2 separate regions of the Homo sapiens genome follow, and region 2 is linked to region 1. Evidence: fine-mapped expression QTL. Tissue or cell type: whole blood. Region 1 holds a variant in brackets; the other region holds the start of a gene. All regions are shown on one strand. Distances are from middle to middle.

What was found. PIP is the estimated chance that this variant, and not a neighbour inherited with it, causes the effect.
Region 2: it holds the start of MYLK-AS1, and the variant in region 1 is fine-mapped to the expression of MYLK-AS1 in whole blood (TOPMed, PIP 0.91).

What each region holds. Positions count from the first base shown.
Region 1 is chr3:123,601,947-123,617,750 of GRCh38, reverse strand. It overlaps MYLK (myosin light chain kinase), which reads left to right. Exons shown (of 34, transcript NM_053025.4): 34 at 3,402-7,702. The coding sequence ends at 3,646. All of the region lies in intron 2 of MYLK-AS1 (MYLK antisense RNA 1), which reads right to left. Among named protein-coding and RNA genes, the nearest start is that of MYLK-AS1, 24 kb to the right of the region's middle. RefSeq lists an enhancer at 7,288-7,337. The variant A/TA (reference allele first, on the strand shown) is at 6,428.
Region 2 is chr3:123,578,478-123,594,281 of GRCh38, reverse strand. It overlaps MYLK-AS1 (MYLK antisense RNA 1), which reads right to left and starts at 8,769. Exons shown (of 4, transcript NR_121654.1): 1 at 8,729-8,769; 2 at 8,481-8,635. HACD2 (3-hydroxyacyl-CoA dehydratase 2) reads left to right here and starts at 9,229. Exons shown (of 7, transcript NM_198402.5): 1 at 9,229-9,409; 2 at 11,953-12,070. The coding sequence starts at 9,255. RefSeq lists silencers at 3,254-3,454, 9,105-9,714, 9,725-9,904 and an enhancer at 8,745-9,044.

The DNA of each region.
Region 1 (15,804 bases):
TGCTTCAAGTCTGTGACTTTCACCTGCCAACCAGGGTGGTGGGTTATCACCCATTTTGGTCTGACCAAATAAAGCACAGAAGTTTATTAGGCAACTTTCCCGAGGCCGCATAGCACAGTACAGCAGTCAAAACAAACTGTGCCTCCCACTTTCTTTGATTCTCCAGCAATGTGACTAGACAATGCCTTTTGAGTAAAATAACCCAAAGTTAGGAATGGAAAAAATAGTTTTTCTTCTGCATCTTTATATTATCAAAGTGCCTTATCAATGCTTCGCCTACCATAGTCATTTTCCTTTCCTCACTCAATTAAAAGAAAGTGGATGTGCTGCCTTTGATAATGTGAAAATTCTCGGACTGGGGATTCTGCTGAAGGCTCTGGAGCCACTGCTTGCAATTCTCACCATTACCATTGCATTTGGGTCTTCTGAAGTTTCTTTTCCTTTTTGAATGTTTTAAAATAACATAATGATTATCATTTTGTACTTAATTTTCTCTTTGGGATTGTTTCGTACTTAATTTTCTCTTTGGAATTGTTTCATTGATATTTATGTAACTTTTGCCTGGGGCTCTGATGAGAAATTAAAGCATATGGATGCTGTTTTGATAAAAACAAAATTGAAACTTTTGCACTGAGGGTGCAGGGCATGGGAGTGGAGGGTACTTTATGACCAGCTCTTCCTGACCCAATTTTCCTCATGGTCTGGGTGTTCCTAATTACTTCGAAAAAACAATTTCTAAAATTATTTTGAAAAAACAACATTGAAAAGAACATTAGAATTCTTGATTTCTTATGTATAATTTTTATTCTGGTTAGGGCTCATATTAGCCTGTTTGCATTGCTATAAAGGAATACCTGAGGCTGGAAAATTTATAAAGAAAAGAAGCTTATTTGGCTTGGTGCCAGTATCTGCATCCAGTGAGGCCTCAGGATGCTTTTAATCATAGCAGAAGCAGGCATGTCACATGGCAAGTGAGAGAGCGAGAGAGAAGGACGTGCCACGTTTTAACAACCAGATCCGCATGAAATGACAGAGCAATAACTCACCCATTACCTCGGGAAGGGCACCAAGACATTCATGAGGGATCGGCCTCCATGACCCAAACACCTCCCACCAGGCCCCACCTCCAACACTGGGGATCACATTTCAACATGAGATTCAAGGGGCACAAATATCCAAACCGTATCAGGGCTACAATTTTTTTCCTATAAAAATACTTCACCAACATTTAAGAGAAAGTCAGGTGGAATATATTGTATATTTTTAAATGTATGTATATATATGACTTTAAAAGCGGGGTACATGTATATACTATGTACCTGCAAACAAAATGCATAATGTTGGTAATGCTTCTGTACATATATATGTACACATACACATTAAATACATATAATATATATTTTATATGCATGTGTATTTTATTTTTTAATGCTGAACTTTGCAGAGATATGACTAATGCATAAAGGCTCATTGGTGAGGTCCATTTCCAATTGTCCATAGGCAAATTACCTGCTTTGGATCAGACTAAGACAAATATTGCTTTCTTCTTCTTAGCAATATTATCAGCTCTTTTAAATTATGTTTTATATAGCTGTTATTAGCTTTATTCAGTTATAATTTATATACTATAAAATTCACCTATTTTAAATGCACAATTCAATTATTTTTAATGAATTTATACCACAATCCAATTTTAGAACATTTTCATCACTCCAAAAAGATCCCTTGTTCCCATTTTGTTTTGACTCTTATTTTTCATTTAAATTATTTCACTTAAACTATTATACAAAATTGAAAATTTAGGCTGGGCATAGTGGCTCACGCCTGTAATCCCAACACTTTGGAAGGCCAAGGCAGGCAGATCACTTGAGTCCAGGAGATCAAGACCAGCCTGGGCAACATGGTGAAACCCTATCTCTACAAAAAATACGAAAATTAGCTGGGTGTGGTGGTGTGTACCTGTAGTCTGAGCTATGCAGTAGGCTGAGGTGGAAGGATCACTTGAGCCTGGACATTGGAAGTTGCAGTGACCCGAGATCATGCTGCTGCACTCCTGCCTAGGCAACATAGTGAGACTCTGTCTCAAAAAAAAAAAAAGATAGAAAATTGTATTTTCGGCCGAGCACAGGTAGCTCACACCTGTAATCCCAGCACTTTGGGAGGCCAAGGCAGGCAGATTACCTGAGGTCAGGAGATACAGACCAGCCTGGTCAACATGCTGAAACCCTGTCTCTACTAAAAATACAAAAATTAGCCGGGTGTCGTGGCGTGCACCTGTAATCCCAGCTACTCAGAAGGCTGAGGCACAAGAATCACTTGAACCAAGGAGGCGGAGGTTACAGTGAGCCAAGATCACGCTACTGCACTCCAGCCTGGGCGACAGAGTGAGACTCTGTCTCAAAAAAAAAAGGAAAAAGAAAATTGTATTTTCAATCTAAGAAGGTATTCAGATCTAGGTGTAGAGTTGGAATTGGAGCAGTATTTCAGGTAGTACTCTATTTTTAATTTTTATTTTTTTGCCATGTTGGCCAAGCTGGTCTTGAACTCCTGCCCACCTTGGCCTCCCAAAGTGCTGGGATTACAGGTATGAGCCACCATGCCTAGCCTCAGGTAGTACTCTATGTCTGTTTAAAGATGGGTGGGTGTGGTGGCTCACACCTGTAATCCCAGCACTTTGGGAGGTCAAGGTCAGAGGATCACTTGAGCCCAGGAGTTTGAGACCAGCCTGGGCAACATAGGGAGACCCTGTCTTTACAAAAAAAAAACTTTTTAAAAAATTAGCCAGGCATGGTGGCATGTACCTATAGCTCCAGCTACTTGGGAGGCTGAGGGAGGAGGATCACTTGAGCCCAGGAAGTTGAGGCTGCAGTGAGCCATGTTCATGCCACTGCACTCCAGCCTAGGTGATAGAATGAGACCCTGCCCCCCTACCCCCCAAAAAGTGAAAGGTGTGATGTTTAACTGAGCACGGTCGCTCATGCCTATAGTCTCACTACTCAGGAGGCTGAGAAGGGAGGATCGTTTGAGCCCAGGAATTTGAGCAACAGTAAGCTACGATCATGCCACTACACTCCAGCCTAGGCAACAGAGTGAGACTCATCACTTTAAAAAAATAAAAAAACTATTAAATAAGTTTTTTAATAGGTGGGATGTGGTGCTAGTCCAACATGTGTGGGAAATGGAACAACTTTAAAATATTCTATTTGGGGTTTCAGATATTGGTATTTACAAGACATGTCCATATTCTAATGTAGATATCAAAACAGTCGATAAAGGCCAACATCAAAATTTTCTCCTTAACCACCTTAATCAATAGTGGTAGCTTACAAGTTGCTTGCATGAGTTGATAAGAAATTTTGAATAACAGTTCCTGCAACTTGTGTTCTCTCCCTGTGATGCAGGATACCCAGACCCCGAGGTTGTCTGGTTCAAAGATGACCAGTCAATCAGGGAGTCCCGCCACTTCCAGATAGACTACGATGAGGACGGGAACTGCTCTTTAATTATTAGTGATGTTTGCGGGGATGACGATGCCAAGTACACCTGCAAGGCTGTCAACAGTCTTGGAGAAGCCACCTGCACAGCAGAGCTCATTGTGGAAACGATGGAGGAAGGTGAAGGGGAAGGGGAAGAGGAAGAAGAGTGAAACAAAGCCAGAGAAAAGCAGTTTCTAAGTCATATTAAAAGGACTATTTCTCTAAAACTCAAAAAAAAAAAAAAAACTCAAGATAGTAAAAGCACCTAGTGTGATAGATTATCGGTTAGGTCATTTGTGGGTTGATTCTTCAGAAACAGCAGTTGATACCTAGCAGCGTTATTGATGGGCATTAATCTATGTTAGTTGGCACCTTAAGATACTAGTGCAGCTAGATTTCATTTAGGGAAATCACCAGTAACTTGACTGACCAATTGATTTTAGAGAGAAAGTAACCAAACCAAATATTTATCTGGGCAAAGTCATAAATTCTCCACTTGAATGCGCTCATGAAAAATAAGGCCAAAACAAGAGTTCTGGGCCACAGCTCAGCCCAGAGGGTTCCTGGGGATGGGAGGCCTCTCTCTCCCCACCCCCTGACTCTAGAGAACTGGGTTTTCTCCCAGTACTCCAGCAATTCATTTCTGAAAGCAGTTGAGCCACTTTATTCCAAAGTACACTGCAGATGTTCAAACTCTCCATTTCTCTTTCCCCTTCCACCTGCCAGTTTTGCTGACTCTCAACTTGTCATGAGTGTAAGCATTAAGGACATTATGCTTCTTCGATTCTGAAGACAGGTCCCTGCTCATGGATGACTCTGGCTTCCTTAGGAAAATATTTTTCTTCCAAAATCAGTAGGAAATCTAAACTTATCCCCTCTTTGCAGATGTCTAGCAGCTTCAGACATTTGGTTAAGAACCCATGGGAAAAAAAAAATCCTTGCTAATGTGGTTTCCTTTGTAAACCAGGATTCTTATTTGTGCTGTTATAGAATATCAGCTCTGAACGTGTGGTAAAGATTTTTGTGTTTGAATATAGGAGAAATCAGTTTGCTGAAAAGTTAGTCTTAATTATCTATTGGCCACGATGAAACAGATTTCAACTGATAAAGAGCTGGAGAACTCCATGTACTTTGGAATCTCCTCCAAGATAGCCAGAGTTTAATACATCTTCATTCTCAACACTCTCCAAAGAACTTGACCTACCTTATGGGTTCCATATTTTTCTTCTTAAATGTGCATCAATCATGCCTTGCCCCCAACCTTTAAATATATTCTTAGACCTGGTAAATGCACTCAGACTTGCGTCTTTAGGAATTTTTAACTTTCTTTCACTACATTGGCACTTAAATTTTTTCTTTATAAAGCTTTTTGAAGGTCATAAACAAAGACCATAATTGATGATAGACCTAATACATTTCCTCTGTGTGTGTGTGTAACATTCCAAATACTTTTTTTTTCTTTTCCACTGTTTGTAAGGTGCAACAATTTAATATTTTTAAGGGACTTTTTAAGAGTTCCTTAAGAACCAATTTAAAATTACTTCAGTGCAATCCTACACAGTATCAACATTAGAATTTTGATATTAGTCTTATGTTATCTTCCATTCTATTTTTATCTGCTTTTTGCTGCTAGTTTCAAACTGCCAGTATTTTTCCTTTTGCTTTTAAAATAGTTACAATATTTTTCATGATAGCCACAGTATTGCCACAGTTTATTATAATAAAGGGTTTTTATTTGATTTAGCGCATTCAAAGCTTTTTTCTATCACTTTTGTGTTCAGAATATAACCTTTGTGTGCGTGTATGTTGTGTGTGTGCATGTGTGGCGTATATGTGTGTTACAGGTTAATGCCTTCTTGGAATTGTGTTAATGTTCTCTTGGTTTATTATGCCATCAGAATGGTAAATGAGAACACTACAACTGTAGTCAGCTCACAATTTTTAAATAAAGGATACCACAGTGCATGCTGTTTGTTCAATCTTTGCAGACTTCTCTTTCTTTCCATGCTACCAGTTGTAAAGGACACAGCTATATCCTGGAAATGAAAAACAAACACTGTGGTGCCTAGATGTGAAGAACTGGCTTATGTGGTTGTGTTTTGCTATGGAACAGAATGATTTAGGAAGTTCTTGTTTATATAGGTAGCCGAATTTACACATTTAGTTCAAAATTTCTCTTGAGCATCAGCTTAGTACTATATCAATCATTCTAGAAGGATATCTTATAGAGCAGGTGTCCCCAACCCCCGGTAAGTAGCCTGTTAGGAACCAGGTCACACATAAGGAGGTTAGCAGTGGGCAAGTGAGCAAAGCATCATCTATATTTACAGCCGATCCCCATTGCTCGCATTACCGCCTGAGCTCTGCCTCCTGTCAGATCAGCGGCAGCATCAGGTTCTCTCAGGAACGAACTCTATTGTGAACTGCTCATGTGAGGGATCTAGGTTTCACGCTCCTTATGAGAATCTAACACCTGATGATCTGTCACTGTCTCCCATCACCCCTAGATGGGACAGTCTAGTTGCAGGAAAACAAGCTCAGGGCTTCCACTGATTCTACATTATGATGAGTTGTATACTTATTTTATATTATAATAAAATATATTATTACAATGTAATAATAATAGAAATAAAATGCACAATACATGTAATGTGCTTGAATAATCCCAAAACCACCCCCTCTCCTGGTCCATGGAAAAACTGTCTTCCATGAAAGTGGTCCCTGGTGCCAAAAAGGTTAGGGACCACTGTTACAGAGTATCAGGTCCTCAAGATGCTAAAATCTATATGACATTTTTAACATGTGACATTATCATCATCATCATCATCATCATCACTGATGATACTATTTACCAGGGCATGGTTTGAATTGGTGACTTTGGTGCAGTTCATTATTGGCAGCCAAATGCTTTATCCATACCTTCATATTGAAGAATTTGTTATCAGGAAACT[A/TA]CCAGTCCTGCTTTACAGGAAGTCTGTTATCAGATATCAGATGGCAAGTTCCCCATGTCTTCAGATGTTCAAACAATATTGTGGATGGTCTAGAAAGAGTTTAAGACATGCTGTTAAATGTAGGGCTAGATAATTCTCTGATTCTTTGATGTAGTCTGGAAAGAAACAATCCATTGTCCAGTTAATAAATATTTAGTGTTTTCATTTTTAAGACACTCACAATCCACAAATGTCCCTAACAATTTATTATTTTTAAAGAAAATGACTTTTTATTCCTTGCTAGTGAAAAATGTACAATTTATATGCTGCACTGAGAAAAATAACAGATATACTTTCTTCCATTCATTTTCATCCCAAACATATAAAAAATAATCCATTGATTGTTCCTTGCATTGCATATCTTATTAAAAGATATTTCCTACATGCAACTAATAAGACATGCTGACTGTTGTCAGCTCTAAATTTATGTAAAGATTTTTTATTTTTGTTAAAATGTTTGAAATTTGCTTTTTGCTCCACACCTCACCTGTTTTTGATAAATCTGTGCTAATAAGTACATAGGAGGTAATAAATAATTGAGTTGTGAGAAACCCAATTCTCCATTTTTCAAGAAAACACAAGTAGCACTACTCTCTTTATCCCTTGGGACTCCTTCCTGTAATTTGAAAGGGGGGGCTAATGTTGGTGGCAGTTGTTGCTAAGGATCTCTGCACAGAGTTAGGGCTTCACTCTCGGCTTCCTGGTTAGATGGGGCCATGTGACTAGTCCTAGTCAGTGAGCTGTGACCAGAAGTGATGTATGTACCCTCGGGACCAGAGCATTTATGTGCTGGTACAAGCCTCTCCATAATGACGGGCAACACATGAGATGGTGGCTGCTGCAGCCATCTGGGTCTCTAGCCAACCCAAAATGGGGACATAACACAAGCAAGAAATAAACATTTGTTCTTATAAATCACCAAGATTTTGGGGTTCTCAGTGGCTGCAACATAACCTAGACTATCCTGATACAGGCTTATCACCATGTTCTGGATGTGTGGTGACCAGGATGGTAGCCACTACTCACAAGTGGCTATTTAAATTTAAGTTACTTTAAAAAATAAAATAAAAAATTCAGTTCCTCAGTTGTATGAGTTACATTTCAAATGCTCGACAGTCACATGTACATCACTTTTCAAATTATGTGAAATTAAAACTGAAAAGCTTGTGTGAAAGTCTAGAGAGTATGGTCTATAGTTTCATCAATTGTATTGGATAATATAGTCTCGATACTCAAGTGTTGTTGTTCTTAATTCTTTATTTATATTCAAATATAGTTTTTCACTTTTTAAGACATTTTAAAGGCTGGGTACAGTGGTACACACCTGTAGTCCCAGCACTTTGGGAGGCCAAGGCAGGAGAATCGCTTGAGGCCAGAAGTTCAAGACCAGCCTGCACAACATAGCAAGACCCCATCTCTATTTCTTTAAAAAAAATTAATTAAAAAATAAAAAGACATTTTAAAAGTACCAGTTCTGGCCAGGCGCGGTGGCTCACGCCTGTAATCCCAGCACTTTGGGAGGCCAAGGCAGGCGGATCACGAGGTCAGGAGATCGAGACCATCCTGGCTAACACGGTGAAACCCCGTCTCTACTAAAAATACAAAAAATTAGCCGGGCGTGATGGCGGGCGCCTGTAGTCCCAGCTACTCGGGAGGCTGAGGCAGGAGAATGGCATGAACCCGGGAGACAGAGCTTGCAGTGAGCGGATATTGCGCCACTGCACTCCAGCCTGGGCGACAGAGTGAGACTCCATCTCAAAAAAAAAAAAAAGTACCAGTTCTATGCTTCTGACCTCAAAATCTAAATAGTCCTGCAATTCACAAGCAACTCTCAGATTATTTCTGATATGAGACAACCAACAAGGCCAACATTCTCCAACGTCTTTGGAATTTGCTACTTGAGATGGGGGATCACCAGTGGGGACTATGAGATGGATGCAGAAAGGGAGACAGGGCTGCTGAGGCAGAATTTCCTCAACCATGGGTCAAAAGGCAGAGGAGCCATCCTGAGGCTACAATCCTTCCAAACTCAGCTGCCTTTTATCAGAACTCCCTTCCCACTGGAATTCAAAACACTCAGGAGATCTAAAGTGCTTGGGGACAACATTGAATTTCTAACCGCTGCTGGCTGGAGATTTTAGCCCATAGGCCTTACCCGTGTTCCAAATGCTTATACCCTGCAGGAAGCGCTTCATGTCAGAGACTTCAGTCCCCCGAGTCTCTGTTTGAGGCCTGTGGTAAATTTTCACAAGATATTTTGTGACTCTCTTAGACTAGATTTCTTTCGGCTGGAGATAACTAAGGGAGAAGGAGGTTACAAATTAACCTAAGTCAATTTGGTCATTCATATTTATTATTAATAACATCTTTAAGGCAGGTATCAGTAGCCTCCAATAGTTAAGATAAGATTGAGCTATGGGGCTTCTCCACAACCACGCTTCAGGTGGTATGTTTCAAAGATAGTCTCAGGCCAAACTTGTCAAACACCTATTAGCCAGCAGCCATACAACCGATTCTGCAAGCTCCATGAAGTCCCAGATATGCCTCTCCAGAAAGCACCTTGCATGTTGTCACTGAAGGCAAATCCTGCAGTGTGCTTGGGTAGGAGGCAGCTAACCTGGTTAATCAGTGGAGTCAGTTCCTCTTGGTGCTATCCTAGGAACCAACTTGTCCAACTTACCCACCATTTTCATTCCCTCTGTAAAATAAGTTACTACCTCTTACCTCTACCTCTTACTACAGCTGTGTAGCTTGTGCCTCAGTTTCCACAGTTATAAAATTAGAGTTATAGTAGTTCCTCACTCATGGCTTGATAGAAAGATTAAACAAGCTCTATGTGCCTGACCTTATGGTACGCCCTCATTCTGGCACTCAGAGATGCTAAGATGTATCAGAAACAATCTCTACTCTGAAAGAACAGATTACATTTCTGCAGGAAAAAAAAAACCCCAAATATGTGAAAAAGTTATATTCAGTCAGCCCTCTGTATCCATGCATTCCAAATCTATGGATTCAATCAACTGGAGATGAAAAATATTTGGTGGGAGGCTAGGTGTGGTGGCTCGTGCTTGTAATGCTAGCACTTTGGGAGGCCGAGGTGGGCAGATCACCTGAGGTCAGGAGTTCAAGACCAGTCTGGCCAATATGGTGAAACCCTGTCTCTACTAAAATATAAAAATTAGCTGAGCATGATGGCAGGTGCCTGTAATCCCAGCTACTAAGGAGGCTGAGACAGGAGAATTGCTTGAAACCGGGAGACAGTGGTTGCAGTGAGCCGAGATCACACCACTGCACTCCAGCCTGGGTGGCTGAGCGAGATGCTGTCCCCAAAAAAAAAAAAAAATATATATATATATATATATATATATATATATATATATATATATATATATAAATAAACTATATATGTAAAATTATATATAATATATAAAATATATATTATATATAATATATAAAATATATATACTATATATCATATATATTATATTATATATTATATATAAAATATATTATTATATTTATATATTATATATAAAATATATATATAATATAAAATATAGTATATAAAATGTAAAATATATATAGTATATAAAATATAAAATATATATAGTATATAATATAAAATATATAGTATATAATATAAAATATATATAGTATATATAATATAAAATGTATAGTATATATAATATAAAATGTATAGTATATATAATATAAAATATATAGTATATATAATATAAAATGTATAGTATATATAATATAAAATATATAGTATATATAATATAAAATATATATTATATATTATATATAATATAAAATTATATATTATAAAATATATATTATATATAATATAAAATATATATTATAAAATATATATTATATATAATATAAAATATATATTATATATATTATATAATATATAATATATATTTGGGGGTGGGGAGTTCCACAAAATTCCAAAAAGCAAAACTTGAATTTGCTGTTCACCTAGTACTACATTGAATCTATGTGAAAGAAGTGATGTGTAGGCATTGTATTAGGTATTATAAGTAATCTAGAGATGATTTAAAGCATACAGGAAAATGTGCATAGGTTACATGCAAATACTACATATGCCATTTTATATAAGGGACTTGAGCAACTGCAGATTTTGTTATCTGTGGGGGTGTCCTGGAACCAATACCCCACTAACAACTGTACTAAAGATGGAAGGTATTATTTTAAGTTCTACCCACCTCCCAAAAAAAAGGATCTTTGAAACTGAAAGTGCCATGCAATTGTACAAAAAAACAATTGCTGTGAGTTTAGGAAATGTTACAAATCTAAATCTCGTTCTAAGGAAAATTTTAACTTCCAATCCCTAAATATTCCCTTCTTAACAGTCAAAGGAGAAAAGCTCATCTGACCTTATGAATATTATTTTTCTATCAAGAGGAAATTTCCCAGAGTTAGCTTGACTTAAACTAATTACACTTTAAGTTTTATCCTGACACATCCCCTAAGTTCTAATTGATATTTGCAAAAGCTGACTTACATTGACTTGTTTCTGGCTGCATATTAACCACAGAACAAATAGGGCTCTGAAGGCTGAGTAGATGTCTTTTTCAAATTGTCTAGAAAGCTAAAAACTGAGACTCCTGTTTTCAGAAGAATCAGGAGATGAAGGAAATATCAGCTTAGGAAATAGGAACCTACCACAGTAGAGAGAAAGTCAAACATGAATTACTCAAGAGAAGCAGTGATTCTCTACCCCTCAGAACTTCCATTAAACTGATAGTAAAGGGATAACAATGTTTTTAAAAAAGATGTCCCCGGTGTGTGATGTTCCCCTTCCTGTGTCCATGTGTTCTCATTGTTCAGTTCCCATCTGTGAAGGTAACAAACCTGCACATTGTGCACATGTACCCTAAAACTTAAAGTATAATAATAATAAAATAAAATAGAGATATAAACTCTTCAAATATAAAGACAAATACAGGTGATGATAGATGGAAAATGTCAGAATTATGGAAGATGGAAAACAAAGAATGGATAACTGACGTAGAGCAGAGAAACTGAAGCTAACATCCTGCATTGGAGGAAGCCAACAGAAAGACAAGTCAGTCTGCCCTGAATTCCCCAAAGGCTAGAGGCTAGACAGCCAGGTACCTATGAAAGGGAGCCTCACAAGGTATGACTCATACATGCAAACCAAGGTCTTTGAGGTCAAAGCAGCTCAAAAGTCCACTAGGAGATAAAGGCAGAGGCAGGGATTGTTGGGAGTTAGGACAGAGCAGGGGCCAAGAGTCAGGAGGTTACTCTGGACTCTTCGATACTACCCATGTCAAAGTGCAGAAAAGACTCTGATCCCAGAAAGGCAGTTGTTTGCTTAAGGCTTTTTAAAACACCGATTAGGCTGGGCACGGTGGTTCCCAACTGTAATCTCAGCACTTTGGGAGGACAAAGCGAGAGTATTCCTTGAGCCTTGAAGACCAGCCTGGGAAACATAGGGAGACCCCGTCTCTACAAAAAAAAAAATAAAAACAAAAATAAATTGTGTTTTAATTAGCCGGGTGTCATGGTATGTGTCTGTAGTCCCAGCTTCTTGGGAGGCTGAAGAGGGAGGATTGCTTGGGCCTGGGAGATTGAGGCTGCAGTGAGCTGTGATCACGCCACTACACTCCAGCCTGGGCAAAAAGAATGAAACCCCATTCTTTTCTAAAGAAAAAAAAAAAAAGACAGATTAGCTTCTTTAAAGTTAAATTGGTTGTCCAAGAAGCCAAATCATTTAGACTTTCAATAATGCACCCTCTTAATGAATGCCTTATATTCATTTATTTAAAATAGAAACTCAGTTGACTAATCTCCATTTAATCCAACTTGCCCAACTTAACCACAACTCTCATTCCTTCTGTAAAATGACTAATGCCCGCATACTTCTGTCCCCACTAACTGAGGTGCATATTTACCAAGAGTCAAAATGTGTTTGTTCTTTTTTTTTTTTTGAGACAGAGTCTCACTCTGTCGCCCAGGCTGGAGTGCAGTGGCGCAATCTCGGCTCACTGCAAGCTCCACCTCCCAGGTTCACACCATTCTCCTGCCTTAGCCTCCACTACAGGCGCCTGCCACCACGCCCGGCTAATTTTTTTGTATTTTTAGTAGAGACGGGGTTTCACCGTGTTAGCCAGGATGGTCTCGATCTGCTGACCTCGTGACCCACCAGTCTCGGCCCCCCAAAGTGCTGGGATTACAGGCGTGAGCCACCACGCCCGGCCAAAATGGGTTTGTTCTTAAACTTATTTATGCCAGTTGTACTTGTCATTGTAATTATATCATTTGATTAAGTATTACATAAAGCAACAAAAATCGAGTACTAAGGAGAAAAGTCCTTGTTTCTATGGAAGCTAAATTGAGACCACTTGTCATGCCCGGCAGATTGAACACCTGCATTTTCTCCTGTTTCTCCCAAAACCTAAATAAAGGAACAAAAGGCATAAATCCATAAGGGCAAAGAATGAGAAAGGAGATACATTAGAGTTGAGATGTCAGCAAAATTTTGGAATAGGCTAATTGGTAATTAAGTTTCAACTTTTTCCATTCTGCAAGTGTCTGCAGGGGAGAAAGCCTCAAAAACAAGGTGATTCAGGCTGGGTGTGGTGGTGCATATCTGTAATCCTAGCTACTCGGGAGGCTGAGGTGGGAGGATCGCTTGAGCCCAGGAGTTCAAGGCTTTAGTGAGCTATGATCATGCCACTGCACTCCAGCCTGGGCAACAGAATGAGACCCTGTCTCAAAAACACAAATGAAAAAGGCAAGGTAATTCCTACCACAGAATTAGCAAAAGCAGGGGAACTAGATATTCCCCTCATCTCCTCCTCCTCTAGCCCATATGGCCAGCTGACAGTTCCTCCCCTCGACCCTGGCAGGAAAGTGGATCTTTTAAAGTTGGACTGGAGAGACCACGGACTGGTGGACAATAGGCACAACTTGGTGGGTGAGAGGGAGGCAACTGAGAAAACTCAGGGACTGGGGAGAGTCTGCACACTGACCTTTGAAACTCCAGCCCTCTCCTACTGCTTGGCTGCCACAACTCTGACTACAGGGCAAGACTGGCTACAGAATTTGCAGGGCCCAGTGCAAAATAAAAATGTAGGGCTCCTTGTTTAAAATAAAATTTTCAAGATGGCAAAATTTCTCTTAAATGGTCCAATACTGTGATAAATTTAGTAAGAGTTAAATCTTGAATCCCAAATCTAAGTCAGTTACACAATTTATATGTTAAATTGGAATCACAGGCTAATCTATTTCTCTAATATGCCTTTTTTTTTTTTTTTTTTTTTTTTTTTTGAGCAGAGCATTAGAACAAGTGTGAGGTCCTTCTAAGAGCAGGGCCCTGTGAGACTGCATGGGATGCTGGCCCATGAAGCCAGCCCTGCTGCAGGTTATTCTTGCACAAGCAAGGGATTGAAGGACTGTTCTTGGAAACTGGACAATCTAGAGAAATGACCCACATATACTGTCATATGGGAATTTCTCAATAAAAACATCCAATTCTCATCAAATTGTCAATGTGGGTACTTTATGCATTTAATGGCAATTTTTTGCACACAGAAAAATTATTCAGAGACCAGTTTGTTCTTTTTAATTCATATTTTACCTATTGCAATTTTTAAAACCTAGTTCTTCCTTAAACTTTTAAATTCAATTTCCAGATCTGATTTGGTAGGTTTATAAAATCTACCAAAATGCAATATTAACTTTTAAGGGAATTTTTAGCATCTAATTAATTAATTCCCTTAATCATTTTTAAATCATGTTCATAAATGTAATAAACACCTGTAATCCTAGCTACCTGGGAGGCTGAGGTGGGAGGATTGCTTAAGGCCAGGAGTGCAGTGAGGTATGTTTGTGCCACTGCACTCCAGCCTGGGCAACAGAGTGAGACTCTGTCTCAAAAAACAAACAAACATGGCTGGGTGCAGTGGTGCACATCTGTAATCCCAGCACTTTCAGAGGCTGAGGTGGGCAGATCACTTGAGGTCAGGAGTTCAAGACCAGCCTGGCCAAATGGTGAAACTCCGTCTCAATAAAATAATTAGCCGGGTATGGTGGTGCATGCCTGTAATCCCAGCTACTCAGGAAGCTGAGGCAGGAGAATCTCTTGAACCCAGGAGGCGGAGGTTGTAGTGAGCTGATATGGCCTCACTGCATTCCAGCCTGGGTGACAGAGTGAGACCCTGTCTCAAAACAAACAAACAAACAAACAAATGAAAATTATTACTAGTGTATAATAATTTCATTTTCATTTTAAATTCTTCAATTGGCTTATAACAAAACTTCCCAAGAAAAGCTCCTACAAATAACTTCTCAAATGAAATGTCTCATGATAATTAAATTTATAAATACAATAAGACTTAATGTCACTTAAATGGTCCAATACTGTTATAAATTTAGTAAGAGTTAAATCTTGAATCCCAAATCTAAGTCAGTTACACAATTTATATGTTAAATTGGAATCACAGGCTAATCTGTTTCTCTAATATGCCTTTTTATTTTTATTTTTTTTTGAGCAAGGTACCGTCCAGGCTGGAATACAGTGGTGCTGTCATAGCTCATGGCAGCCTCAAACTCCTGGACTCAAGCAATCCTCCTGCCTCAGCCTCCCAAGTAGCTCAGGACTACATGCATGCATTATCATGCCTGTAATGAGAAAAACCTGGAATCATATAGAAAAACCTTCCCCCAAGCTGGGAGGGAGCCAAGAGACCAAACAATGACTCAGACAAGTCCAGTTTGGCAAGTAGATGAGTTTATTAGGACTTATATAGGAGGTACTCCCGGACAGCAGCAGGACAGCTTTAGAGGCCCATGCTGCCTCCCATCCCTATGCTGCTTTTAAACTAATTTTCTGGCTCTTTGCCTACTGTGTGTGTTATGGGACTTTTTTCCCAGGTAGGTTCTCAGATACTCTCTGGAATGTTTGGGTTCTCAGGGACACCTGCTCCTTGACAGGACAGAACAAGACCCCATCTCTAAAAAAAGAATAAAAAGGAGTACCTAAAATAAGGATTTTAACTAACATTTAATACCATATGTTTACTTTGTAACTTTTCTAAATTCTAAATTTCATAAAGTTAAAGAAAGTTGTTTATTTGAAGAAACATTGCCTTTCCACTTAGGGGAACATCATCTTCTCAGCTGGCTGAGTTTACTCTGACCAAACACTTCAGCTGAGCATGAGACTTGGAATTATAAGACACCCTGGAAATATTTCTTGTGACTCTGATTGCCGAGCTAAGTTCCTTTCTGTAGTCACTACATTCTGGACTCTAAAATCCAGTCCTTGAGTTTCAGTCCTAAAT
Region 2 (15,804 bases), 23 kb after region 1:
CATGTATCCTAGGAGATCTTTAAGATCATCGACCTGGCAGTAGAATAGCCATCACGGGATATATGTATCTTCAACTTTACTAGATAATGCCAAATTGTTTCCCAAACTGAACACACCAATTAATCAACAGCAGTCTGAAGAGTTCCTGCCGCATCACATCCTTGCCAACAATTGGTGTTATCAAACTGTTGAATTTTAGCCAATCTAGAGGATAGTTAATGGTATCTCACTGTTGTTATACTTGCATTTCCCTAATTAATAATGAGAGTGAGCATATTTGCATGTTTATTGACCATTTATATTTTCTTCTGTTCAAGTCTTTGCTCATTTTTTTTCAATGTGATTGTCTATTATTGATTTGAAAGAGTTTTCATATATCCTGGAGGCTATTCTTTATCAATTATACATGTGGCAAATATCTTGTACTCTGTACCTTGCTTTTTTGCTTATTTCATGCTATCTTTTGGCAAACAAAAGTTCTTTATTTTAATATAGTCAAATGTACGAATCTTCTCATTTATGGTTGGTGATATTGATAGTTTTAAAATTCTATACCTTTGAAGTAATATTCTTCTGCATTAATTTCTGTTTTTTAAAAAATTAGATATGGGAGTTTTCACTATGTTGCAAATGCCAACACCAGTTCTGTGAATCAGAAGCTAAACCTGGAACCATGGCAACATGAGGAAGCTGAAGCTCCAGGATCCTTGAAGCGCACACTAAAGTGGTCCGGATGCCATCTGGCTTTTAGCAGAGGTATATAAAAGTCCTTCTGAAGGAAAGCATCCCAAATGTAGGCCCTTGGAATTTCCATTGATTTAAATTCAATAAAATAAACTCACAATAAAAAATTACAGGGAGATTAAGCCACCATGAGTCAGTGAACAAAAACAACAACAAAAAAAAAATGATTTAGTCCCCCAGAAACTTCAAATATTGGAATTATCATATAGGGAAAATAAAATAAGCCTGTATAAAATATTCAAGAAAATAAAAGATGAAATAAAAAACATAATTTATGTCCACATAAAAACCTGCACATGAATGTTCATATGAACTTTATTCATAAGTGCCAAAATTTGGAAGCAACCAAGATGTCCTTCGATTGGTGAATAGGTTAAAAAAAAAAGAAGGTACATCCAGACAATGGGATATTATTCAGTGATTAAAAGAAGTGAGCTGTCAAGCCATGAAAAGACACAGACAAACCTTAAGTGCATGTTGCTAAGTGAAAAAAAAAAAAAAACAACAGAAAGGCAACATCCTGTATAATTCCAACTATATGACATTCTGGAAAAAGCAAGACTGTAGAGACAGTAAAAAAATCAATGGTTACTATGGGTGTGGGAGGAGGCTGGTTTGGGATGAATAGGTAAAGCACAGATTTTTAGGGCAGTGAAACTATTATGTACAATGTGCCATGACAGATACATGGTATTATATATTCATAAAAATTCATATAGGCAAGGAACAAGGGATTATTAAAAATGACCAGACAGATTTGAAAGGTTTATGTATTGTTTAGGAAGATGATAAAGTACTGATTAATATTAGACTTTAATGAGTTAATGATCCATGCTGTAATTTCTATGGTAACCAGTAAAAGAAGAGAAGCAAGATGTACAAATTCCAGTAAGTAGAGGGGGAAGAATAAGTGATATTTTAAAAATTATAAATGCAAAAAAGGAGTGATACGGTTTAGCTGTGTGTCTCCAACCAAATCTCATCTCAAATTGTAATCATCACGTGTTGAGGGAGGGACTGGTGGGAGGTGATTGGATCATGGGGATGGTTTCCCTCATGCTGTTCTAGTGATAGTGAGTTCTCACGAGGTCTGATGTTTATAAGTGTTTGGCAGTTCCTTCTTTGCTCTCTCTCTCTCTCTCCTGCTGCCTTGTGGAGAAGGTGCTTGCTTCTCCTTTGCTGTCCACCATTGTATTAGTCCCTTCTCACACTGCTATGAAGAAATATCTGAGACTAGGTAATTTATAAAGGAAAGAGGTTTAGTTGACACAGTTCTGCATGGCTGGGGAGGCCTCAGGAAACTTACAATCATGGTGGAAAGGGAAGCCAACATATCCTTCTTCACATGGCAGCAGGGGAAGTGCCAGATGCTTATAAAACCATCAGAGCTTGTGAGTCTCACTCACTATCCCAAGAACAGCATAGAGGTAACCGCATCCACGATTCAATTACCTCCCACTGGGTCCCTCCTACAACACATGGGGATTATGGGAACTAAAATTCAAGATGAGATGTGGGTGGAAACACAGCGTAATTGTATCAACCATGATTGTAAATTTCCTGAGGCCTCCCAAGCTATGCAGAACTGTGAGTCAATTAAACATCTTTTCTTTATAAATTACCCAGTCTCAGGTAGTTCTTTATCGAAGTGTGAAAATGGACTAATACAGAAGATTGGTACTGGGAGTGGGGCACTGCTATAAAGATACCTCAATATGTTGAAGCAAGTGTGGAACTGGGTAACAGCAGAGGTCAGAACAGTTTGGAGGGCTCAGAAGAAGACATGGGGAAGATGTGGGAAAGTTGGGAACTTCCTAGAGAATTGTTGAATGATTTTGACCAAAATGCTGATAGTGATATGGACAATGAAGTCCAGGCTGAGATGGTCTTAGATGGAGACGAAGAACTTATTGGGAACTGGAGCAAAGGTCACTCTTGCTATGCTTTAGCAAAGAGACTGACAGCATTTTGCCCCTGCCTTAGAGATCTGTGGAACTTTAAACTTGAGACAGATGATTTAGGGTATCTGGTAGAATAAACTTCGAAGCACCAAAGCATTCAAGATGTCACATGGCTTTTTCTGAAAGCAAACGGTCACATGCGTTCACAAGGAGATGATCTGAAATTGGAACTTATGTTTAAAAGGGAAGCAGAGCATAAAAGTTTGGAAAATTTGCAGCCTGACCATGCAGTAGAAAACAAAGACCCATTTTCCAGGGAGATATTCAAGCAGGCTGCAGGAATTTGCACAAGTAACAAGGAGCTGAATGTTAATAGCTGAGACAATGGGGAAAAATGTCTCCAGGGAATTTCAGAGATCTTCAGGACAGCCCCTCCCATCACAGACCTAGAGGCCTAGGAGGGAAAAATAGTTTCCTGGGCTAGGCAGGCCCAGGGCTCTACTGCTGTGTGCAGCCTCAAGACATGGTGCCCTGTGTCCCAGCCACTCCACCTCATGGCTAAAAGGGGCCAAGGTACAGCTTGGGCCATTGCTTCAGAGGGTACAAGCCCCAAGCCCTGGCAGCTTTTATGTGGTGTTGGGCCTGCAAGTGTGCAGAAGCCAAGAGTTGAGGTTTAGAAACCTATGCCTAGATTTCAGAGGATGTATGGAAATGACTGGATGTCCAGTCAGAAGTCTGCTGCATGGGCGGAGCCCTCATGGAGAACCCCTACTAGTGCAGTGCAAAAGGGAAATGTGGGGTTGGAGCATCCACACAGAGTCCCCACTGGGGCAATACCTAGTGGATCTGAGAATAGGGCCACTGTCCTCCAGACCCCAGAATGGTAGATCCACCAACAGCTTGCACCCTGGACCTGGAAAAGCTTCAGGCACTCAACTCCAGCCCATGAAAGCAGCCTTTGGGACTGTACCCTGCAGAGCCACATGGCAAGAGCTGCCCAAAGCCTTAGGAGCTCACCTCTTCAATCAGCATGCACTGGATGTGAGACATGGAGTCAAAGGAGAGTATTTAAGAGGTTTAATATTTAATGACTGCCCAACCAGGTTTCAGACTTGCATGGGGCCTGTGGCCCCTTTGTTTTGGCCAATTTCTCCCATGTGGAATGAGAACATTTACCCAATGCCTGTACCCCCATTGTATCTTGGAAGTAACTAACTTGTTTTTGATTTTACAGGCTTGTAGGTGAAAGAGACTTGCCTTGTCTCAGATCAGACTTTGAACTTGGACTTTTGAGTTAATGCTGAAATGAGTTAAGACTTTGGGGTACTGTTGGGAAGGTATGATTGGAATAGCATGTGCAAATTCCCTGAGGCAAAAAAGGAGTACTGCTCGATGGAAGACCTAAGATGAGGCCAGTATGACTAGGAGGGGCATGGTGAGACTGAGGAGGCAGGTAGGGTCTAGTCTATGCAGATTTTTGTATACCATATTAAATATTTTATGCTTTATCCTAAGTGTCATCAAAAGCCATTTAAATATCTTCAGGGGTGGGGCAGAGGAAGGTAGTAGACACGAACAAGGTTGTATGTGGAAAAGATCACTTTGGCTGTACTGTAGAGCAGGGGTCCCCAACCTCTGGGCCACAGACTGGTACAGGTCCATGGCCTGTTAGGAACCCAGCCACACAGCAGGAGGTGAGCAGCAGGCAAGTGAGCATTACCACCTGATCTCCACCTCCTGCCAGACCAACAGCGGCATTAGATTCTCATAGGAACACGAGCCCTATCATGAACCATGCAGGCGAGGGATCTAGGTTGCAGGCTCCATCTAATGCCTGCTGATCTGAAGTGAAACAGTTTCATCCTGAAACCATTCCCTCCCCAGTCCATGGAAAAATTGTCTTCCATGAAACCAGTCCCTGGTGCCAAAAAGGTTGGAGATTGCTGCTATAAACAACAGACTGGAGTTGGGCCTAAGTGACTGCAAGAAGATACATTGAGTTTTAAACTGATTTCCAACTGAACAGAACTTTATGCATTCCTGCCTCCTCCTACTTTCCCATTAAGTAGATTATATTGAAAAAAAAATCAGTCAAATGAATGAAAGAAGCTTTTAGATGAATGATTATTTGGTTTTGTAAAATGGTTCACTTCTTTATTTCTTTTGCAAAGAAATTTTTTTGCCCTCTGATCACAGTGTGCAATTTGGGCTCACCAACTTGCTCTTTGAAAAATTCAGGAAGGTCGGGTGTGGTGGTTCATGCCTATAATCCCAGCATTTTGGGAGGCCGAGGCAGGTGGATCACCTGAGGTCACGAGTTCGAAACCAGCCTGGCCAACATGGCAAAATCCCGTCTCTACTAAACATACAAAAATTAGCTGGGCGTGGGGGCAGGCACCTGTAATCCCAGCTACTTGGAAGGCTGAGGCAGGAGAATTGCTTGAACCTGGGAGGCGGAGGTTGCAGTGAGCCAAGAGTGTGCCATTGCACTCCAGTCTGGGGGACAAGAGCAAGACTTCGTCTCCAAAAAAAAAAAATTTCAGGAAAACAAGGCAACAGAATCTCTGAACAATCTGCCATGGCGGGAAAGGATGGGACCCTGACAATTGTCAACTTATGCCTCTCACTTCATCTCTTGAGGTCTTGAAACTTCTTTTGCAAAAATTGTAACAGTGAGAAAATTATGACTGAGAGAGATCTGATCTAACCAGCCCCCACCTTGACTCTGTAAATCAAAGAACACGATCAAGGCAAGTCTCAATCATTTTAGGAGGTTTATTTGCCATAGTAAAGGATGCATGCCAGGGAGGCAGGTATATGCCTATCTCCAAAGATGATTTTGAGGGCTTCAGTACTTAAAGGGGAAAGGGTGGATACTGGGGGAAGAGAAATTTTTTTTTTTTTTTGAGACAGAGTCTCGCTCTGTCACCAGGCTGGAGTGCAGCGGCGCAATCTCGGCTCACTGCAACCTCCAACTCCAAGCGATTCTCTTGCCTCAGTCTCCCAAGTAGCTGGGACTACAGGCGCGCACCACCACACCCAGCTAATTTTTGTATTTTTAGTAAAGATGGGGTTTCACCATACTGGCCAGGCTGGTCTCAAACTCCTGACCTCCTGATCTGCCTGCCTGGCCTCCCAAAGTGCTGGGATTACAGGCGTGAGCCACCACGCCCAGCCAAGAAATATTTTTAAATTGTGTCAGTAGATAAAAAGATAAAACAGTTGCATCCTTTTGAATACACAATTTTCATGTGAGTGGGGAGTGGAGGAAATATTCATGCCTTAGTCTGGCTCAGTTAATCTGTATTTTTACATAAGATAACGTAGACAATAGGGCAGAGGAAGCAATCAGATATGCATTTGTCTCAGGTGAGGAGAGGGAAGACTTTGAATTCTGTCCTATGTCCCATACCTGTGAAGATATCAACTTACATTGCCAGGTTGAAATTCAACAGAACTGTTTTAGAGTAAAGATCTTTGGGCCTAAAAGGAATTTCCTTGTGGGTAAAATGTGAGGGAAGTATATAGCTTTTATCTTTGTAGCTATCTTATTTAGGAACCAAATGGGAGGCAGGTTTGTGTGACCCAGTTCCCAGCTTGACTTTTCCCTTTGGCTCAGTGAATCTGGGGTTTTCCTTTCTCATCTTTAACCTCCAAAACTGCCCTTGGTCATTCCTGGGCTTGCACCAAGCTAACTTTGGGAGAAACTTAGTTTACAGTTTAAGCGATAATAGCCCCTCCCCAAAACTAAACCACTTTTGTAAAACTAATGAAAAGCCACCAGGTTAGAAGGATAAGAGGAGCTTGAATTCTGCTAAGACATAGGCTTTGTTAAGTTAAATGATTACCAGCCACTATTCCAGAGGTCACTAGATTTGCAGCTTCCCCAGTTCACTACTGTAGAACCTAAGATTGGCCTTTTGAGATAAACTTTCAGGCTTCTGCATTTCGGATGGCTGACGACCCCACTGAGACCTTTGACTCTTGGCTCAACCAGTCCTGTGGCCTCCACCCAGAAGCAGGCTCAGTGCAGGGGGACCATTTTCCACACCCCTATAATTGCATTCCCAACCAATCAGCAGCACCCATTCCTCCAGCCTCCTGCCTGCCAAACTGTGTGTGTGTTGGGGGGGGGGTGGGTGTTTTGTTTTGTTTTGTTTTGACTATAGCTCTCAGATCTTAGCCAAACTATTCTTGAAAAACCCTACCCTCTGAATTTTGGGGGAGATTTGGAGTAATAACTCCATCTCCAAGACCTATCTCATGTCAATTAAATTCTTTATTGCAATGCCATGGTCTCTATGAATTGATTTTGTCTGTGCAGTGGGAAGGAAGAACGTATTGGGTGATTACAGTGTCATGGATTTAAATACCACCACCACCCTCAGAACTCTGAGAAAAGATAATACCTCAAACAGCTCTGAGCTGTCTGAGCTATGTGAAGTATGCAAAAATTTATCAGGCCCAGAGACAAGAGTTTGCCTGGGGGCAACTGTTTAGACATTTTGTTCCTGACTAGCAGCCTCACCCATTATCTTCATGTTCCTGGAATCTGTGATACAAAGAATAGTTTATAGCCAATCAATAGCTAATGTAATTTTAATGTAAATTCTTAGTAAACAACTTAGAAGCTGCCTCTTTTTCCTTTAAAAACCCACTCATAACCGCTGCTAATCAGAGTGTATATTTAGGGTAACTTGAATCTATGCTCCCAGGTAGCCATCTTCAACCTTTATGCTTGAATAAACTTCCTTTAAACTAGATTCTTACCTTTTTTATTATTTTAGGTTGACAACTCTCAAATTTATATCTCTAGCCCATTGGACTTCCTTCCCGAACCTCAGGGTCTAAATTTAATTGTCTATCCAGCCTCTCCACTTGGATGTTTAATAAGGATTTCAAATTCAACATATAAAAAACAAAATTCCCGACTTCCGCCTTAAAAATGGTTTCTTACAAGTTGCTCAAAACGCCTTTGACCTCACACTCCAAAACTAACATATCCACAAATCTTATAATTCTACTTCTAAAATACGCACAGAATTCATTGTTGTTTTCATCACCTCGATTTCCACCACTCTGGCCCACACCACTATCACCATGGCTGGATTATTGTAATAACTTCCTGATACCACTTTTCACCAACTAATACGAGCATTTTCGTCTGGTTCCCTCAGGGGTCCTTAAGCCCCAGGCTGCGGATAGAACCAATCCCTGGCCTGTTAGGAACCAGGAGGCACAGCAGGAGGTGAGCAGCAAGCAAGGGAGCATTACCTCCTGAGCTCCGCCTCCCTCAGATCAGCGGTGGCATCAGATTCTCATAGGAGCGGGGAACCTATTGTGAACTGCGCATTGGAGGGATCTAAGTTGTGTGCTCCTTATGAGAATCTAATGATAAATGTAATGCCTTTGAATCATCCTGAAACCATCATCCACCCCCCCACCACGAAACCGGTCCCTGTTGACCAAAAGGTTGGGGGCCGCTGCTCTATATAATCCCTGGGAGACTGACGACTTTGTCTCTTTCACTTAGTGCCATGAACTCCAGGGCAACTTTGTGGACGCTCCATAAACACTTGCTGGAATGAACCCATAAATATTTTATACTACCACATATACAGTAATACATTTAAGGAGCTGCTTGGGTGTGTAAAAAATTGCAGGGGACGTTTACAAATAAAGAACCTCCTGAAACAAAGCAATGAATGGAAAGTGGGATCAGCTGGTTGAAGCAATGCCCACAAGCTGCTCCAGCTTCCCAAAGCAGAGAGGTTTTCCACCTAAGCCAACATCCTTTTATTTTTAGTCACTATAGCTATAAATCTACTCCCTTACCCCGCACCTCACTCTCAGCCGACAGCCCAATGGGCTTATCCTCCTCTCGCCCTCACGATGAGCGAGTCCACGCGGTCTCAGGCTGGAAGATGCACTTGAACACCAGCCAAGCACTCACGGACGACACTGGATTCTAGGCCGCCTGGGCTTCTCCACTGTACTAGGAATGTAAAATCAAAAGTCAGAAAGAAAACTTCGGAGGTGGAATCTCCAACCCGGCAACGGGTTAGGAAGCAAAGCGCACCTACCAAAGGGCTGGTCCCTGCAGCCTCAAGGGCTGATGGGAAGTGAATCCACCGTCAACCGCCCTGATCCAAAATGGCAGGATACCGGAGCAATAGTGTTCAGGTGTGAAGATAGGGCAATTGAAGAAGGGAGAACGAAAGCATAATTGTTTTGATTCAACATGGAAGCAGTGATTATAGGAGGGCGAATAGCGAGGGACGACGCAACATCCAGCTGGCAGAAGCAGCGGGCCTGGAGAGGGTGGCTACATTGAACTAATCCAAGATGGCGCCGAGGTTGTAACCGGGAGCGCCCAAGAGGCGGGAATTACCCTGATCCAAGATGGCAGTGGCAACTGAGGCAAGCCGAAAGACGGGAGCGCCAGGAGCGTCTTTGCCCTCAGCCAAGATGGCGGCTGCCGTGGACCCTGTCCCGGCTCCGCCCCGCGGCCCTGGCCCCGCCTGCCCCTCGTCCCTTCCTCCGCCCCCTCTCCTCGCGTAGTCCGGCCCGAGCCGCTCGCGCTAGGAGAGCGGGCTTCGGGCACTTGACATGGCGGCAGTGGCGGCGACTGCAGCAGCGAAGGGGAATGGGGGCGGCGGTGGCAGGGCCGGGGCCGGGGACGCCAGCGGCACGCGGAAGAAGAAGGGCCCGGGGCCCCTGGCCACGGCGTACCTGGTCATCTACAATGTGGTGATGACAGCCGGGTGAGGCTGGGGCTCGGGGAGGCGGGGAGCCAGCGCGGCCGGGGAGGGAGCCCTGCGGCCAGCGGCGGGGCGGATAGGATCGGCGCGGCCCGCCGCAGGCAGTGCATTCCCGGCGGGGGGTGCCCGGGACCCGGTACCTGGGCGCTGAGGGCGGCCGAGCGCTGAATCGGCCCCGGTGGCTGCCCGCGAGCTCCCTCCTGCGCTGGGGGTCGAGCCAAGTTCCCAGGCACTGGGGCGCGGGGACGGCTGCCGGGCGCTGGCTCGCGAGGGCCGCGGGAGGAAAGGTGGGGCTGGCCACAGGTGCGGGGCCGGGGGCAGCGGCCGGACTACCTGCGGCGCGGAGCCCGTCCTGGGCGGCCAGATTCGGATGTTGAACGGCGCCAGCATGGGGAGTGGAGGAGCTGTGGCTGCAGAGTGACCATTCATTTGGGCGGCTGTTTTCAAAATCTGGGCTGCGCTTTAATCTGAAAGGTATTGGGAAAGCGTTCAAAGTTTTTGGCCAGCGACATGAGCAGAGCTAGGCTTTAGATGAGTTTAGACTTTTAGGATGGGTTGGGGTGGGGAAGAAACTGGGGAGTAGAAGGCAGAGTTACTGGAAAGGGGGAGAATGGACCCTCGAAACGGTTTTACCCATCTTCTGTCTCTTTCATTTCAGTGCATCCCTTATCCCGGCGGGTTTTTAGTTCAAGCTCTGCCACTAACTAGCTGTGTGACTTTGGATAAATCATCTTATTTCTCTAGCCTCCGTTTTTTCATTTGTAAAACTAAAGGGTTGGTCTGGGTGATGAAGGTTCCTTCAGCTCTGCAATTCTTTATCTTGTCATTTTGGTGAGGAGGATCACAGCATCAGACAGTTATATATTTTTAAGTTATCTTCATTTGTAATTTTTTAAGAAGTCCTAACATTTTATTATGAAAAATTTCAAACATACAGAAGAGTTGAAAGAATTGTATAGTGAACATCCATTTTTATTTAAAGTAGGTGATACATTGTTAGGGTTAAAAATGAAAAACATGAGGGAATACAGTGAAAATCTTTCCTCCCACCTTTCCCTTCTACCCAGCTCCCCTCCCTCGAGGCAGTTAATTTTGTGTATCCTTAAGATGCTGATGCAAGCAAATATGTTTATACATCCCCCTATCCCTTTTTAAAATAAGACAAATGCCAATATATTAATATTTTTACAGTTCAGCACCTTGCTTTTTTTTCACGAAGAAGAAAATATATCGTGGGAGGATCATATATGTATTGCTAGTATTAGAAATGGTAGGTGTTGGAACCTAGGCTCAGAGAAGTTGTGACTTGCATGAGATCATAGAACTTGTTAGTAGAAGTTCCAGATCTAGAAATCATTTCTCTTGACTCACAGGTCAATGAAGAACTAGTACAGATACAAGCTTTATATCACATCAGTGGTCACATAGATTGATTTTTAAAAAAACATCCAGGAATCTCACTGTGTGTATTAATATTTATATATAAAATTCTTGTTGTCTTAGCAAGAGCCGGTGAGGGCATTGGACTGGAGAGGGATTTTGAGGTACATTGGTAAGAAGAAAGAAGTCTATTCCTGAGCAATGAACATAGAGAATGGGGTGGAGGGTAAGGAGTGGTATCTTAAACCAGGAAGATAAATTGGGATTGTGAGAGCAAAGTAAGCTTTTTTTTTAAGGCTGTTAATGGTTGTACCAGTTACACCATTAAATAATTTCTTCTTTTACAAACTCTTACTTGATGTCCTTATGTGATAGTTTTTGGAAATAGCATAGACCACACACACCCCATTGCCTAGTTGATACTATACATTTATCTAAATCCTTCCAGGAGACATACCTTAATAAAAAGGTCCATTTGTTTTATTATGGAACTTAACAAAACATTGTGTTTATTTTTGAGAAGGACAGTGGAACAAAAATATAACATTCACAGCTGTATGCTTAAGTGCTTTCCTGTTTCGTGGTTTGTATTGATCTGGCTTTCATTTCTGCATTGATTTTAGGAAATTTGGCTAAAAAACTTTTTTTTTTTAGCAAGAGCCCTTTATTCGTAATTTTAAAAGGATAGATTTTAAGGTATGGGTAATTGTTCCAGTGAGACAATTATAACAATAGTTTAAAGCATCTTCTTTCCACCCTGTAATTATTAAAAACCCTTTAACTGCACAGGCTGTTTAAAATTTTCCTTTAACTGTTTTTTTCTCGTCTTAGATTTTCTTGGCACCTGATTTAGTGGCACAAGGACCATTTTAGCTTATTCCTTTCCTTTTGGCCTTGATCTCAATAGCAAAGTTGCCAAAAAAATGAGCTCCAGATGGGTGAGGTGCCACTATGCTTTCACTGAGCCCTCTTGGTAAGGTGCTGTCGGTGTTGCAACATTTCAGTGCATTACAGCTTGGCATTTGAGAGCTATCGTCCATAAATCCAGGTTACTCATGCTTGAGGTCACCTTTAGCAATATCTTTTATTGCCACAGCTGTGTGTTAACCTAAATGCTACTTTTTTTATTTTTATTTTTTCCTGATTGCTGTTTTCTCTTTTACTAGGTGGCTGGTTATAGCGGTTGGTCTGGTCCGAGCATACCTGGCTAAGGGTAGCTACCATAGCCTTTATTATTCAATTGAAAAGCCTTTGAAATTCTTTCAAACTGGAGCCTTATTGGAGGTAGGTCCTGAGATTTATTGTTGTTATTGATTTCCATTGGTATGAAGAAAAACATGCAACTAAATTATATTGAAGTAGCATACCCCCTTTGGATTCATGTTAAATTTTGAAATTTTGCCTCCTCACATACTAAAGTGTTGATACCTAGGCTTTTTGATGTTCTAGATTGGGTAGAATCTCATTTAACTTAGGTTACCTTGAATGTATTTTATATTCGACTTTTTTGGGAAATCAACTGAAGCAAGCTTATATTAGGATTTTTAAAAATTCTAGGGACATCCTGGGGAAGCACTGGCAAAATCAGATGCTTTCAGGGTTTATGTAATAGAAATAGTGAAGTTGGTGGGTGTAGGATATTGGAAGTGATAGATAGAAGACATAATAGAGAGCCTGTCTAGAGGCGTCCAAATTTTAAAAATTTAACAAAAATGTATTGATTTCCCTGCATTAAGGGCAATGTATATCCAGCCCTCTCTCTTGGGGTAAGTATAGATTAGGATTTTGGAATTGCAAGGGACAAAAACCCAATTCAAACTATTTTAAGCAAAAAAGGAATTTTCTGGCCTCTGTAGTTGATACAGATACAGGATTAATTTACAAAGAAACTAGCTCAGGAATGAGAACCAAGGAGCTGACACTGCCAGATTCTCTTGCTTTCTCTCATTTCTGCTTGTCTGTTTCTCTTTGAATGTTGGTCTTGGGCTCTCCACATGGTGGGAAACAGGGAGGGTGTTTATTTTTCGCAGCATCTGTGTCACACAGTTCCCAGAGAGGATTCTGGTTGGCCCTACTTAGACTATGCCAGTGATGTGAGGTGCTTGATTAGCCAATCTTAGGACACATGCCCATTCTTCTGTCCAAGGGACTATAGACTTTGCTTATGGAAAAGAGGGATGGGGATAGCTTTGGGCACACAAAATCAATAGCCGCCATAGTTCGTATATTTCATTATGGTGAAAAACCTTCAGATTGCAGGGAAGATCTGGTTCATTTTGCTTAGCCTCCAGGCAAGACCATCATAACATTTATACTTTACTGGCAACTTTTAAAACCTGAACTATGGAATGATACTTAAGAAAAAATCATTTATCTCGCTGGGCACGGTGGCTCACGCCTGTAATCCCAGCACTCTGGGAGGCCGAGGCGGGTGGATCACGAGGTCAGGAGATTGAGACCGTCCTGGCTAACACAGTGAAACCCCGTCTCTACTAAAAATACAAAAATTAGCCGGGTGTGGTGGCACGGGCGTGTGGTCCCAGCTACTGGGAGGCAAGGTTGCAGTGAGCTGAGATCACGCCACTGTACTCCAGCCTGGGCAACAGAACGAGACTCTGTCTCAAAAAAAAAAAAAAAAAAAATTCTTTATCTCATGAAATGAAGTGTGATACCTCTACCTTTCATTCTCAATTTTTTTTTTTTTCTTGAGACAGGGTCTTGTTCTGTCGCCCAGGCTGGAGTGCAGTGGTGCCATCATGGCCGTGGCTCACTGCAGCCTTGAACTCCTGGGACCAAGCAGTCCTCCCACCTCAGCTTGCAGAGTAGCTGGGCCCACAGGCTTGCACCACCATACATGGATAATTTTTAAAACTTCATAGAGACAGGGTCTCCCTGTGTTGCCCAGGCTGGTCTCAAACTCCTTGGCTCAAGCAATCTTCCCATCTCAGCCTCCCAAAGCACTGAGATTACAGGCGTGAACCACTGCACCCAGCCCACTCTCACTTTATTTATTTATTTTTTTGAGAGAGGGTCACTCTGTCACCCAGGCTGAAGTGCAGTGGTGTGATCACTGCTCACTGCAGCCTTGACTTCCCAGGCCCCAGCCATCCTCCCACCTCATCCTCCCAAGTAGCTGGGACCACAGGCGTGCACTACCGTGCCTGGCTCATTTTTATATTTTTGGTAGAGGTGAGGTTTGGCTGTGTTTCCCAGGCTGGATTCACTCTCACGTTCTAGATCAGAAAGTTATCCATTTTGCTTTTGTTTTTTTCTCTTAGAAGGCAGAGGAATTTCTTTTTTTCTTTCTTTCTTTTTTCTTTTTTTTTTTTGACACAGGGCCTTACTCTGTTGCCCAGGCAGGAGTGCAGTGGTGGGATCTCGGCTCACTGCAACACAGAGGAATTTCAATAGTGTCCAAACTTAGGCATTTTAAGTAGGTGGTATGATGAAATGAGCTTCCAGCTGGAAGCCTGAGTACCTTTTTATTTTAAGTATAATAGTTTTCCCAACTGACTCTATAGATTTGGGCAAGTCTTTTCTCTCGTATCCACCTCCTTTTCATTTGTAAATAATTAGGTTAAAGTAGATTTCTAAAGTCCCTTACTACCCTAAATTTGAGTGTGAGGAAATTTTAACAAATCCTAATGTGAACCATTTTTTAAACTTAGAGGCTTGAACTTTTTTTGGAAGCGGACACTAGTAAATAAGTAGTACTTTCTCTTTCAGAACCTTGGCCAGTACAGTTCCCACAAGCTACAGAGAAGCAAATTTGGAGTCAAGACCATCAGACTTCCAGTACTTGATATAGTAGGGGGTTGTCCCCATTTGGAATACTTCAATAATTTAAAGGGGTTTCTATCTCTTTAAGACATCATAATATTAGAGCTGAGCACAGTGGCTCATGCTTATAGTCCCAGCAATCCCAGAGCTTTGGGAGGCCAAGGCAGGAGGATCACTTGAGGGCAAGAGTTCGAGACCAGCTTGAGCAACATAGCAAGACCTCATCTCTACAAAAAAAAAATTTTTTTTTTTTTAGCTGGGCTGGGTGGTGGGTACCTGTAGTCCCAGCTACTTGGGAGGCTGAAATGGGAGGCTTGAGCTTGAACCCAGGAGTTTGAGGCTGCAGCGAACTATGATTGCATCACTGCAATCCAGCCTGGATGACAGAGTGAGACCTTGTCTCAAAAAAAAAAAAACTTGGTAATGTTAGAAGTATAATTTTTAAAATTTAAGTATATCTTATGGAAGGTAGGGACATTAAACAGTGTCATACTTTAAAATCCACTCAGGAACCAAGTCTTAGACTTTGAAGGATTAGCCTGTTTATCCTTATAGAATTTTTAATAGGGATTTAGGAAAATATCTTGGATTTTTGGTTTTATCTCTGTTATCCCCACTAAGAACCAATTAAGTGACAAATCCTGGATTTGATTTTGGGAAAATGTCTGTGCATAAGGAAGTGAAGACTCCCAGGAACATGCAGGCAATTAACGTTGCAAAGGTCAGTGATGGAAGTAATCCCTTGGACTGGGCGATAGAGCAGGCTTGCTAAAACCACAATTTCTGTGGTTGAGGAGTTTTTCATTGCCTACCCCATCTACACTGTGTAATAATTAGATGTGTGTGGTATTGTTTAATTACACATAAGTTATCCTGATGGGAATTATTAGTGTTGACATATATCCTGTTTACAGGAGGAGAAAATGAATCCAGGGAAGGCAGCTACTCATTTATATCTCTTTATGCTAAATGTTATTCTTTATTAGGTTCTGTGGGAGTTTACTTAAAAAGGAAATCGAAATTACTTGTTCTCCAATTTCACATCTTCTTAAGAAAATAATAACACTTTGCTTTTTAAAAGACATAAAAACATTTACCAAGCAAGTACAAAGGAGCATGTAGTAGCAAGGTACAAAAGGAAGCCTGGCTGAGTACCATGGCTCACACCTGTAATCCCAGCACTTTAGGAGGCTGACATGGGGGGATTGCTTGAGGCCAGAAATTCAAGACCATCCTGG